Linked DNA regions of Homo sapiens. The protein of the gene in region 3 interacts with the protein of the main gene of each other region in a pairwise test. Each region holds a gene or a part of one and is shown on either strand. Other genes may lie near its edges.

Region 1 (3,500 bases), on a different chromosome or scaffold from region 3:
TGTTAATAACAGCAGAATATTGAATACAACCTAAAACTGGGTAATAAATACATAGAATATTTTTTATTCACAGGGTGGAATACTGTAAAGAAAAAAACCCAAATATAAAAACAGCACCATATAAAAGTTTTAAAATAGATGAGGTCTAGCTTGTTGCCCAGTCTGGAGTGCAGTGCAGTGACTATTCACAGGCACTATCATTGCATACTACAGTGTCAGATCTCCCGGGCTCAAGCCATCCTCCTGCCTCAGCCTCCTGAGTGGCTGAGACTGCATGCCCGTGCCACCATCCCTGGTTTGTAGGACATTCTTATTATATGCCATGATATGCCATTTTAATTTAAAAATTCACCAAGGAGAAACATATGTTAAGGAGTACATATGAAAGAGTATAAAAAATGAACCAGAAGGGGCTGGGTGCAGTGGCTCACACCTGTAATCCCAGCTACTTGGGAGGCTGAGGCAGAAGAATCACTGGAACCTAGGAGGTGAAGGCTGCAGTGAGCAGAGATCACACCACTACACTCCAGCCTGGGTGACAGAGGGAGACTTTGTCTCAAAAAAAAAAAAAAGGAAACTTGGAGACTTAACCTCATAATAATGGATGTTTCTAGGGTTGAGAGGGACATGACAGAGGAAACGATGTTGGTGATGGTACTCAAGGCACTTCCACTACCTCAGTGACAGGTCTTTTATTAAAAAAAAAAAAAAAAGAGATTGAGCCAGGCACAGGTGGCTCATGCCTGTGAGCTACTTGGGAGGCTGAGGTGGGAGGATTTCTTGAGCCCAGGAGTTCGAGGTTGCAGTGAGCTATGATTGTGCCACTGCACTCCTACCTGGGTGACAGAGTGAAACCCTTCTCTCTAAAAGAAAAAAAAAATTGAAAAACAATGCCAATTCTCTAGAAGGTAAGTTAGTTATTGTTATACTGCTACTTGCCCGTTTCTGTTTTTCCCAAAATGTTAAACCCTTTGGTAAGTATAGTACTAGTAGTTTTACTACTGTAGCATTTAAACATGTAATCTACTATATCAGAAAAATCTTCACTATACCTGAATATAAAATATTTGCATGTAAAAAAACAAAAGTACTAGAAATAACACATGAATGAATTTTTATATAATATAGAGGAATAATATGGCATTTATAAAATTTGGTAAGCATGATAAGAAACCATGCAAAAGTTGGCTAGATCACACTATTAAAACAAACATTCATCTGTATGGCAAACACATATAAGTGAGGTTAAAATAATAAACTGGGCCGGGTGGAGTGGCTCATGCCTGTAATCCCAACACTTCTGGAAACTGAGGAGGATCATCTGAGCCCAAGAGTTCAAGACGAGCCTGGGCAACATGGCGAGACCCTGTCTCTACAAAAAAATTTTAAAAATCAGCTGAGTGTGGTCTCACTAGCTTATGGTCCCAGCTACTCGGGAGACTGAGATGGGAGGATCGCTTGAGAGTTCAAGGCTGTAGTGAGCTATAATTGAGCCACTGCACTCCAGCCTGGGCGACAGTGAGACCCTGTCAAGAATACTCCAATACAAAAGTACAAAGAAAGATAGATGAAATCATGTAAAAAAAAATGGTAAAGTTCAATGGTAATAATAGGAATTCAAGCAGGTGTAAAATGAAAAAAGACTATCCCAATGAAGTCAGGGTATGGGAAACAATGTCACTGACTCTCCGGGATTGTCAACAATCACAATTTGGGAATATTGGCATCACTGTCAAAATGTGCATACTTTTAAACCTATCATTCTTATGAGCGGGAATTTATCCTGATGAAATAACTAGACAAATATGCGACTATTCATTAGAGTGTTTTATATAAATGGTGCTCTTCCAACCTGGGCCCATGTGTTCCTGAGCCTACCTGACAGGGCATGTGGCTTGATCTCGGCTCACTGCAGCCTCCACCTCCCAGGTTCAAGTGATTCTCCTGCCCTCAGCCTCCTGAGCAGCTGGGATTATAGGCGCACACCAGTACACCTGACTAAATCTGTCTTTTTAGTAGAGATGGGGTTTCACCATGTTGGCCAGGCTGGTCTCGGAACTCCCAACCTCAGGTGATCCACCCGCCTCGGTGTCTCAAAGTACTAGGATTATAGGCGTGAGCCATGGCGCCCGGCCGCAAGGATAGTTTTAAGAGAGTCAATTTCTAGCTCTTCAACTTCCATGTGTACTCTTTCTTAAAAATTATATGTCTGTGAATGCCTTTGTGGTCAAGGCTTAGGCTGGTTTTCAGGAATCACTCCACCTGTCCTTTCTAATTCCCCTTTCACAATTATTTATCTACTTTACAAAAGAAAGGCGTATCTCCTAACCAGCCAAATCCTACTGTGGTGTATTGCCATGAGGCAAAAAAAAAAAAAAAAAAAAACCCAGAGAAGAGGAGAGGCAAACAAAATGCTGGTGTCTGTGGTGAATGTAAATGCCTCTAATAAAAATCCAAATTTTTAGCTTTCATAAAATTACATTGATAGTGGATGATCATTACAAATAATTTTTGATGATACATCACTGTGATTTTTTGTCATGTAATTAAGAAGGAATCAAAATAATTGAGTGGCACTATTGTAATATATCTTCTATTCCCAAACTCAAAGTATTTCTATTATTTTTAATTTGCTATCATAAAGAATATTGGGGTTTTTCCATTTTTATCAACTATAAAAAAAAATTAGGGATAGAAAAGGAACAGTTTCATTCACGCAGTAAATAATGTCGACCCAAAGATATGTGAATGTATAGGGAAAAAATCTCATCTTTCTTATTAAAGTCGTTGTAAGTAAACATAAAAAGTAATTATTATTATTATTTTAATATTTGTTTATTATTATTATATTTTAAGTTTTAGGGTACATGTGCACAACATGCAGGTTTGTTACATATGTATACATGTGCCATGTTGGTGTGCTGCACCCATTAACTCGTCATTTAGCATTAGGTATAAAAAAAAAAAGTAATTTTTAATTAAAATTTGTAACATTTGTTTTGATCAATTATATATTCTAATAATTGTGAAAACTCAATATAGAAGATATTTTCATCCTTTGAGATTTAATAAAAAGCTTAAAAATTCAATTTATAGAAAATAGGGCCTAGCTTGTTGCCCCTGTCATTTTTGTTGCAGATAAGCATGATAAGCTACTCAATAAAATATTTGAAAATATGTGTAATAAAAATATATCATCTCAGGGAGAAGTTCAAACAAACAAACAAAATATATCATCTTATGCTGAAATTCTGTAGAAGTACAACAAAGGAATTCAAGGAGGAAAGGGAAATGATATATAATTTTTGCCTGTTAAAGAAGAGCTGAGCTGTATATAAATGATGGTGGGTATGAAAAAGCAATAATATTTATACTTCATTTGATACATTTAAGGCTGATTTAAAAGTTTTATTTTAAAATGTCAATATTTACAGCCCCCCTCCCCCAAGAAATTACATGCTTTGCAACTACAATGAAAGATTTAGATATCAACTTTAAAA
Region 2 (3,500 bases), on a different chromosome or scaffold from region 3:
TCTCCTTGCCAGGCTCTGCTGATAGCAGGGCCAGGATCATGGGCATGTAACTATGGCAGTCGCATGCTGAAATGCCCTGTACTTAATTTAAGGCTCTGCTGTTGCTGTTGTGAATAACCAGTAACTTTGGAACAAGGGACCCTGCATTCTCACTTGGCACTGAGCCCCGCAAACCATGCAGCTGGTCCTAGCTGGCAGCCAAGGCCCCTGAACTCACCTTGCTGGACCTCATTAATCCGGTTAATCAGGACCTCAACTCGGGGCTCTAGGCTTCCCACTGCACGGAGGAAAGGAGGTTGAGTTGACAGGGCAGGCAGAGTTGGGGCGGTTGCCAGCCTTGTGTCTCTGCTGCTTTCACGCAACACAGATCTATTGAGTACCTCCTGCAAGCAGGTGCTCTGTGGGGCCCTCACGGGGCTCACGTTCTGGGTGGGCAAGACTGGGAACAGACACAATAAGATACCGAATGGGGCTGCGGTAACCGTGTTCAAGAGAAATGAAGTAGGCCAAGGGAGGCTAAAGAGCAAAGGAGTGGGAAGTGCTCCTGAGATATGGGAAGGGACCTGAGGGCCCCAAATCAAGTGGTGGGGGGCAGGCCCTGCAGCAATTTGGGTGGGGTTGGGAGGTAGTCAGTGCAAAGACCCATCATGAGGTGGGAACATGGCTGGCAGGAGCCTAGCGAGCAAAGAGGGAGTAGCGGGTGAGGGGGAAGGAAGGGAAGTGAAGGCGGCAACTTCTGGATCTAATGGACTGCAGTGGAGCCAGATGGGTGACCAGCGAGAGGTTTGGGACAGGGTTTTGGGAAAACATTTTGCCTTCTATACCCTTTTGCTTCTTTAATTTTGAAACATGGGGCCCTATTTTTAGTTTAAGTAATTAAGTTTTAAAAGAAAGAGAAGGTGAAGAGGATTATTTCCCAAATTCGTACATTGTGGGGCCTGAAATTAAACCCACATCTGCCTGGCCCCAAACCTCAGGCTGTGCCTCACACAAAGGAGACACACGACCTTTCTGCAGCTTTTGCACCATTTCCATCAAGTCTTCAATTTTCTGTGAGGACGTGTCCTGCCCTGTGGAGACAAAACCAAACATTTCAGAATCAAGCAGGGCGAGAGGCCACCCCTGGGCTGAGACTGAGGCAGGCTGAGGGCAGGTCTCCAGCCAGAGTGGTGCCCCTTCTTCTTGTCCTGAGGTGGACAGTACACTAGATGAATCGGGCTCCTCCATGGTCAGCTTTTCCCTATAAGGTAAAATTATACCAGATATCCTCTTTGTAAAACTCTGGGTGAGGGCAGGGGTGCACTCTCACTGCTGAGGCTGTTCAAAGTAAGATCAAAGCTCCTGATATAATTCAAGAAAAAAAATGAGGGTATAAAAAACTGGAGCAAGGAGTCAAAAATCACTGTAACTGGCAGATGACATAATCTAGGAAGTTCTTAGAGAGTTTTCTACAAAACCATAAGGATTAGTAACAAAATGCATTAAGATGTTAGGTTAAAAACATATATAAATACAAACAAGCTTTCCTACATACAACCAATACTAACCCTGAAATTTCCCCATAAAATATTTCATGTTAATTTTTTATAATCACTATTGGAACCTATTTTTAACACTAAAATTAGTAGATCTAAGAAATTACTATTTATGGCATTAACATTGTGAAAGGAAAATAAATCTTTTTATAAATAAATCTTTGAAAATAAATCAATTCAAAGTCATCCCTCTGCTCACTGAGATAAATGCATATCTGATTTTGTAAAATAAATATCTGAAAATAATTCAGTCATCCTTCTTCTTACTCAGATAAATGCATATCTGATTGCCTCCTTTGGAAAGGCTAATCGGAAACTCAAAAGAATACAACCATTTGTCTTTTATCTACTTATGACCTTGAAGCAAACCCCCCTGCTTCAAGTTGTCTCATCATTGCTTTGAGTTGTCCCACCTTTCCAGATCGAACCAATGTTCATCTTACATATGTTGATTTGTGTCTCATGTCTCCCTAAAAAGCATAAAACCAACCTGTGCTCTGACCACCCTGCCACCCTGGGCACAGGTCATCAGGACCTCCTGAGGCCGTGTCACAGGCATGCATCCCTAACTTTGGTAAAATAAACTTCCTAAATTGACTGAGACCTGTCTCAGATTTTTGGGTTTCACATTTTGGCAACCACAAAGGGATTCTGAGTAGAGGTGCCCCTGACCTTTGACAAATATCCTATCAGTGCTTGCTAGCAGCTTGAGCTATCTTTATGGTTCAAACTAATATGACAAGTTGCTGAGTTCTGGAAGTCCCCCATCCAGGGAATCCCTCATTTCCCAAAATTCGCTCCAGATCCAAAGTTTATTTTTCTAAACAACTCTACTCTTTTTTTGGAGTTTTTCTTGCTTCCAACAAGGAAGGCAAGTTTTCCTGCTTCCATGAAAGTTCCTTTCTGGAGTTTGAACTCGCTCCCAACAGGGAAGACAAGTTTGAGGGTTTTTTTCCTGCTTCTAAGATGATAGAGAGCAGTCTTCAGCCTAAGACCCATCCCTAGGTAAGTAACTGAATTGGGGTTTGTCTTGGCTAAAGGTAAAATTAACAACCAGCTGGTCTTAATTTTTCCTTATCATTAGAGTGTCCAGTAACCATACAAGTTGTGTGATCATTTGTTTGTTTTGCTTAACTGGTATTTTTTTTTGTTGTTGTTTCTTTCTGTTTTTGTTGTTTTGGTCCTTTTCCTATTGGGTTTGGCCAATTCTGACTTGATCAAATCCAAAGGAAAGTTCCAAATTATGTGGAACAAGGCCTCTGAAGTGGCTAAATTCCCACCAGAAAAGGGGTGGTGGGGGAAGAAAAAACAGCCAGCAAAAGGAAAAAAGGGGGGGAAGATTTTTGATTTTGACTACTTAAGGGGATTTATTTACATAACAAGGCCACCTTTTTGCTAGCCAGGCCAAACTGAAAGAGAAAGGATTGTCACCCCAACTGCAGTTCCATAGCTAAGGTTCTGTCTTCTTTTTTCCATGACAGCCTGGGTTTGGTTCCTAAATCAAGACCTTTCTGGTTTGATACTTGGTACTTCTGAAATAGCAGATATTTGTCCTAGCTGAAATATGTTGATGAGATCTTAAAAATTTTTTAAAAAGAAACTCAAATGGTTAAAAGTCATCTTAATTAAAAGCTAACATCCAATGTGTGTGTGTGTGTGTGTGTGTGTGTGTGTGTGTGTGTGTGTGTGTGTGTGTGTATTTAAAAGGGCTTCATGATTTTTCTTTTTTCTCTCTCCTAGGACCTTGTGTTTTTTGGGCAAAAGTTTTTTTTCTTTTCAGTTGACTGAATGCTATTTTCTTCATATAGTTCTGCTGTCTCTCCTTTCCCTTGAACGCTCTGCTGCATGAGGGACCTAAAATAGTTTATAATAGCCTGAGGTTCCTTAAAGAAAATGGAGAAGGCACCAGACTCCCTTTTGTGGAGAAAATTGTTTTTCCTTGTGTATCCCCAAGAGTGTAAACAC
Region 3 (3,500 bases):
TGGTTTCTTGGCTAGTCTGTGGGTCTGCCACAACTCGGGTAAGGGCAGGATGTGGAGAATTCCCCTCCCTGGCATTTGAGGTGCTATCCCTCTCTGGAAAGGAGACCTTAAAGAGAGGAACTGAGGCTGGGCGCAGTGGCTCACGCCTGTAATCCCAGCACTTTGGGAGGCCAAGGTGGGTGGATCACGAGGTCAGGAGTTTGAGACCATCCTGGCCAGCATGGTGAAACCCCATTTCTACTAAAAATACAAAAATTAGCCAGGCATGGTGGCGGGCACCTATAGTCCCAGCTACTTGGGAGGCTGAGGCAGGAGAATCACTTGAACCCAGGAGGCGGAGTTTGCAGTGAGCCAAGATCGCGCCACTGCATTCTAGCCTGGGCAACAGAGCGAGACTCCATCTCAAAAAAAAAGAGAGAGAGAGAGAGGAACTGAGGGGGGCAGCTGTTCCAGGGACTTAGAAGCCCCTTGAGCCTTCCCCAAACCCCAACCTGTGAAGTTCTGAATATCATACACCTCAAAAGCCCACAGGTGCCCCAGGATGAAACACCCCGACTCCCTCACGCGGGCATGTGCACCCACAGCAGGCATGGCTCTGCTTCCACACGCTTCCCTTGGGCGTGACACCTGCCAAACAGCCAAATATGCCTAGGGTCTGAGGCCTCTCAGATCCCCTACCAGAGCCACTAGGCTCCCAGCTGTCCTTCCCTAAGACAAAGCCAGGTTTTAATTCCAGGCAGAGGGAGGGGCTGAAGTGGGGAGAACTGGTGCTGAGAGAGGGATAGGAAGCCTGTTGACATGTTCAGACGCAACTCCAGTAGAAGTGCTGGGCCTGGCAGGGGGCCAGGCCTGAGTCACAGCTGCTGGGCGTATCAACGTGGCATTGTACAGAGGCAGGAGAAGCCTGAGGCCGGAGGCCAGGGCACTGGGGTCCTGGACAATGGGCGGCTGGCTTCCTCACCAGCCGCCCCCTGCAAGGTCTCCTGCCAAGTGCCACTTTCCTTCTTCCTGGCCTCTCTCTCTAGAAATCATTCCGGTGTTGTCACAAAAATGCAGGGGTGGGGCTTGGGGATAGAGCAAAAGAAGTAGTGCCTGGAGGAGGGAGGGATGGCCTAAGAAGATAGTAGAATGTCCTGAAGGGGGCGGGAGGGAGGCCAGTGACCAAAACGAGGGACATTTAGGGGATTCCCTTCACAAGAAGCCAATTCAGCAGCCCCTTAACTCTCTATCTGGTGGCACATAGTTATTAACCCTGAGGACACTGGGAGAGAGTGGGAGCCACACCCCAAGGTCAGGAGAAGAAGTGAGGGAGGACCTAGGCAGTCTGGTCTCACTGCATTCCAGCTCTAGCCTCAGAAGACACAGCTCTCTCCTAGCCAGCAGAAGGTGGCAGTGTTAGAGCTTTGGGAAGAAAGGGGAGCCTTGGTGACCCCAAATAGCCTCCTTCTCAACTGCCCAGAACCTAGACCCCTTGAAATGAAGTCTAGCTCCCCTGAGCCAGACCTAAAGGAACTCATGTGTCCTATCTCCCTTCCATTTGTCCCCGTCAAATTCAGACCACTGTCCTTCTTGCTGCAACTTGAATGTAGTTCTCAAGAAAAGGCCACCCCTCAGCCTCTGCTTTTCTGACTGGACAAGCTTAGGGTCTCCTGTCCACTCTCCACTCTGCCCTCTACCATGACTCAGCGCCCCTGCCGGGCCTGGGATCTCAGCCAGAATTATTCCTGGCTTCAGCAGGCAGGATTCCGGCTTCCTCTCTCACAACTTGGGGGAGGCAGGGGTGAAGGGAGGACTCCCCTTCCCAAACTCTTTCCCCTTCCTTAAGGGATTGGTAGGGGCCAAGACCTCCTCCCAGCCCAGCCGCAGGTTGGGGGAGCCAGTATGGGTGCTGGAAGGGTAGAAGGTGGGCAGCCCAAGGTCACCGTGCCCCTCCCCCCGGTTCCAGGCACTGTTCTCTAATCCTGGCCAGCTCTAAGGTAACAGTTCTGCCTCTCCTAGGCCTTCGCCCTAGCCCCCAACCCGGGTCAATGGGAGCCATTCCTGTGCCGCATCTCCCGTTCCTACTCTATGACACAGCCCTTTCCACCGTCCAGAAGGGAGAGGCATCGAAAACGAGTTGCCCTTTCCTAGTAGCAATGAAAACAAAACATTTGCCAAGAGGGTAATGTCACAATTTAACCATTTCTAACAAACTTTCACGGGGAAATAGAGAAATGTGGTAGTATGTTTAATTCCACAGCTTGTGGGAAACATTTCTATTGAGAACAACATTAGCTATTAACTATATTCACATTATTTATATTTGATTTTACTATTAATAACTTGGTATTTTAGAAGACTGTTTTCTCACTTTGTGGGTCACTGTACTACTTTGGAACCTAAAAGGTCTCTGGAGACTTTCCGCTCCAATCCCTTTCTTTTACAGCTAAGGAAAGCCAGAAAGGGGAGGCGATTTGCTCAAGGTCACACAGCAATTTAGTGAAAGGGCCACACACAGAACTAAGGGCACCGAGGGCTAGGGTGTCCACTATATCACACTGCCTGTCATTTTGTTGGTGGACTACCTTGCCCCTTATTTATTTATTTATTATTAGTATTATTTTTTTGAGACGGAATCTTGCTCTGTCGCCCTGGCTGGAGTGCAGTGGCGTGATCTCGGCTCACTGCAACATCTGCCTCCTGGGTTCAAGCGATTTCTGGTTAATTTTTGTATTTTTAGTAGAGACAGGGTTTCACCATGTTGGCCAGGCTGGTCTCTTAACTCCTGACCTGAAGTGATCTGTTCCCCTCGGCTTCTCAAAGTGCTGGGATTACAGGCGTGAGCCACTGCGCCCGGCTTGCCTTGCCCCTTATTGAGGGATAAGAGACCCTGCAATCTTCCAGAGATCTCCTATAATATTAGAGTTCGGCCTATCAGTACACTGGGACCCCAAGGAGGTGAGAATGGAATGAACCCTGCCCTTGTGTCTGGGTCTCTGAAGACTTGGTCTTGGCTGCTGCAGCTGCTAGGGGTGGCGAGGGGCTGGGGAGGAGGGAAGCAAGGGGGAGGGGAGCAGAAAGCACAGTTGGTAGGTGAAGGGATCTACCAGTTGTCCATCCAGCTGTCCTGGGCTTCAGCGCAGACACTAAGCTACCGAATCACTGGGGGGTGGACCTGGAAGTGGGGGCAATGGGCACATCCATGGAAGAGTAAGTCTCAGACTCCTGGAGGCCAGGGGAAGTGCCAAGCAAGGGCACCAATAGTGGGAAGGCAATAGGGGGTCCTAGTGAGGAATTATTCTCTCTTTTGTTTCTCTTGGGCTTTTTAAGTACTTCTCACCCCCCAGGTTTAGCTGCACCCTTCTTCTTTCCCTTTGAATCAGAACGTGGATTTGGGCTAGGCTCAGTGGCTCTCAGCACTTTGGGAGGTCAAGGTGGGTGGACTGCTTAAGCCCCAGAGTTCAAGACCAGCCTGAGTAACATGGTGAAACCTGGTCTCTACTAAAAATAGAAAAATTAGC
Region 4 (3,500 bases), on a different chromosome or scaffold from region 3:
CATAGGTAAACATGCATCATAGGGGTTTGTTGTACAGATTATTTCATCACCCAGGTATTAAGCCTAGTATCCATTAGTTATTTTTCCTGATTCTCTTTCTCCTCCCACCTTCCAGCCTCCAATAGGCCCCTCTATTGTGTGTTGTTCCCCTCTATGTGACCATGTATTCTCATCATTTAGCTCCTACTTATCAGTAGGAATGTGTGACACTTGATTTTCTGTTCCTGCATTAGTTTGCTAAGGATAATGGCCTCCAGCTCCATACATGTCCCTGCAAAGAACATTATCTCATTCTTTTTTATGGCTGCATATTATTTCATGATGAATATGTGTCACACTTTCTTTATTCAGTCTATCATTGATGGGCATTTGGGTTGACTCCATGTCTTTGCTATTGTGAACAGTTTTGTAATGAACATATGTGAGTACGTGTCTTTATAATATAACAATTTCTATTCCTTTGCTTTTTGAATATTAAATTTTACTTATAACAAATATAATTTGTTAGGAATATTCCCAGTAATGGGATTGCTGGTCAAATAGTATTTCTGTCTTTAGGTCTCTGAGGAATTGCCACATGTCTTCAACAAAGGTTGAACTAATTTACACTTCCACCAGCAGTGTAAAAGCATTCCTTTTTCTCTGCAACCTTGCCAGCATCTGTTATTTTTTGACTTTTTAATAATAGCCATTCTGACTGGTGTGAGATGGCATCTCATCATGGTTTTGATGTGCATTTCTCTAAGGATCAGTGATGTTGAGCTTTTTTTCATATGCTTGTTGGCCACATGGATGTCTTCTTTTGATAAATGTCTGTTCATGTCCTTTGTCTTTTTAATGGGATATTTTTTCTTGTAAATTTGTTTAAGTTCCTTTAGATGCTGGATATTAGACTTTTGTTAGATGCGTACTTTGCAAAAATTTTCTCCCATTCTAAAGGTTGTCTGTTTACTCGATAGTTTCTTTTGCTGGAAGGACAAAAGTTTTAATTTGCTGAAGGGCAACTTACTTTTCTTTTGTTGTTAGTGGTGTCATATCTAAGAAACCATTGCTTAAACCAAAGTCACAAAAATTTATGCCTCTGTTTTCCTCTAAGAGTTTAATAGTGTTAGCCATTACATTTACGTATTTGATTTATTGTTACTTAATTTTTGTATATGGTATGAGGTAGGGTCCAAGTCTATTCTTTTCCATGTGAATATCCAGCTTTCCCAATACCATTTGTTGAAGAGACTATTCATTCCCCATTAAATAATCTTGGCACTGTTGCCTAAAGTCAATTGATCAAAAATGTGAGAACATGCACATCTGCTGGAGTCTCAATTCTATTTCATTTCTCTGTATGCCCATCTTTATGCCAGAGTGACAGTATCTCAATCACAGCAGCTTTGTGTTATGTTTTGAAATTGGAACATGTGAGCCCTGCAACTTTGTTCTTTTTCAAGACTGTTTTTGTTATTTGAGTCTCTTGAATTTCCATATGAATTTTAGGATGAACTTGTCAATTTCTACAAAATATATCAACTTGGATTCTAGTAGGAATTGTGTTAAATCTGTAGATCAATTAAGAAAGTATTGACATCTTAACAATATTAAAATTTCTGACCCATGAACATGGAATATCTTTTTTTAAGTCCTCAATTTCTTTCAACATGTTTTATTGTTTTCAGTGTATTAGTCTTGCATCTCCTACGTTAACTTTATTCCTAGGAATTTTATTCTTTTTGATACTGTTATAAATACAATTGCTTTCTGAATTTCATCTTCAGGTTGTTCATTGCAAGTAAAGAGAAGTATAATTGAGTTTTTCCATTGATTTTTGTATCCTGCAACTTCGCTAAACTTGGTATAAGTTCAAATAGTTTTTTAGTGGACCTCTTAGGATTTCCATTAAGTTGGTGCAATTACTTTTGCACCAGCCTAGTATACATAAAATCATGTCACCTGCAAACAGAAATAGTTTTACTTCTTCCTTTATTTATTTATTTATTTATTTATTTATTTTTGAGATGGAGTTTCGCTAATGTTGCCCAGCCTGGAGTGCAGTGGCATTATCTTGGCTCACTGCAACCTCTGCCTTCTGGTTTCAAGCGATTCTCCTGCCTCAGCCTCCTGAGTAGCTGGGATTACAGGCGCCCGCCACCATGCCTGGCTAATTTGTTGTATTTTTAGTAGAGACGGGATTTCACCATGTTGGCCAGGCTGGTCTTGAACTTCTGACCTCGTGATCCGCCTGCCTTGACCTCCCAAAGTGCTGCAATTACAGGGGTGAGCCACTGCGCCTGGCCTAAGTACTTCTTCCTTTCTAATGTGATAATGCACCTTCCCTTCCCTCCCCTCCCCTCCCTTCCCTTTTTCCTTCCTTCCATTCCCTTCCCTTTCTTTCTCAGGGAAGGTACAAAATGCCATGGGCATTACGGGCAGCAGTGGCAGGGCCAGAGAGGCTTCTCAGAAGAAACAGCCTTGAGGTGGATCTTTAAGGCTTTGTGAAGGCACCCCCTGCATGGAGGGAGGCATGTGCAGAGGTCCACATGTGGAAAGTTACAGCAGGAATATAAAGACGAGACCTGAACAGAGCCAGCATAGTGGCAAAGCGCTGCAGGGTATGGTAAGAGCAGCCACTCATGAGGCTTTGCTGGAGTGTTGAGCACACAAAGCATGGGAGGGGCTGAGTGGGGCTGAAGACAAGGGTCTGTGCTCCAGTTAGGATCACCAGAGACAAGACTCAGACCATGCTGGAGGCGATGAGAATGATGGCTCCTCCTGCTGCATCATGCTTGTCACACACACAGGGAGCAAGGCAGGCTCCGCTACCCACAGTTCAGGGTGCAGAAGAGGCGCAGGCCTATGAAGTGCCAAACTCAGGTCATGCAGTCGGGGTGGCCAAGTCCAGATCTGAACCAGGTTACCCTCACTTCCAAGACTCCTGTCCTTATTTATTTCTCAGTTTCCTTCCTCCTATAAAACCAAGAGGTTGGATGGAATAATCTTTGAAGTTCCTTATACTTTAAAATTCAATTCAGCAGGTAGTGGGGTCATTAAAGGCTCTGCATGAGAGTGGCCCAGGCGCTGTGCCTAGAAAGCTGACTCCTGGAATAGCAGGTGGAGTGGGAGTGAACATGGGGCTGGGGAGACCCCTGAGGACTCAGGAGGCCCTCCCAACATGGGTACACCACCCTTAGGGAAATACACCACCTGCAAGTCTGAATAGCCAAAGTAACACAGACACAAATGATTCCTCCAGTGGCACTTCTCTCAAGGTCTCGGTAAGACCTGTCTTGAAGCCCTGGCTACCAGTCCAGACCTCACCAACATTTGAGCAAACATCCTTTAGCGCCCCCAAACCACAGAACCTCTAGTAACTCTCCAGCACTGACTGCTTGCTGTGTTTAGGTCTCGTCTTTATACTCCTGTAGTAACTTGGATAACTTTTAGCTGACACAGGTGGGCAAAACAGGCATTTTCCTGAAATTCACTTGGAGCCACCATTTCCAAACACA

The links. Proteins that work in one complex are often made in the same cells at the same time.
Region 1: the proteins of LMNA (region 3) and TUT7 interact in binary tests that used the Homo sapiens proteins (3 or more experiments, as listed by UniProt).
Region 2: the proteins of LMNA (region 3) and SYCE1 interact in binary tests that used the Homo sapiens proteins (3 or more experiments, as listed by UniProt).
Region 4: the proteins of LMNA (region 3) and FAM3B interact in binary tests that used the Homo sapiens proteins (3 or more experiments, as listed by UniProt).

What each region holds. Positions count from the first base shown.
Region 1 is NC_000009.12:86,291,911-86,295,410, forward strand, and holds part of TUT7 (terminal uridylyltransferase 7), read right to left. Parts: exon of another isoform or gene 3,388-3,500; intron 1-3,387. UniProt on the Homo sapiens protein: Uridylyltransferase that mediates the terminal uridylation of mRNAs with short (less than 25 nucleotides) poly(A) tails, hence facilitating global mRNA decay. Essential for both oocyte maturation and fertility.
Region 2 is NC_000010.11:133,559,084-133,562,583, forward strand, and holds part of SYCE1 (synaptonemal complex central element protein 1), read right to left. Parts: intron 1,071-3,500; coding exon 1,008-1,070; intron 278-1,007; coding exon 218-277; intron 1-217. UniProt on the Homo sapiens protein: Major component of the transverse central element of synaptonemal complexes (SCS), formed between homologous chromosomes during meiotic prophase. Requires SYCP1 in order to be incorporated into the central element.
Region 3 is NC_000001.11:156,121,211-156,124,710, reverse strand, and holds part of LMNA (lamin), read right to left. Parts: intron 1-3,500.
Region 4 is NC_000021.9:41,351,301-41,354,800, reverse strand, and holds part of FAM3B (protein FAM3B isoform a precursor), read right to left. Parts: intron 1-3,500. UniProt on the Homo sapiens protein: Induces apoptosis of alpha and beta cells in a dose- and time-dependent manner.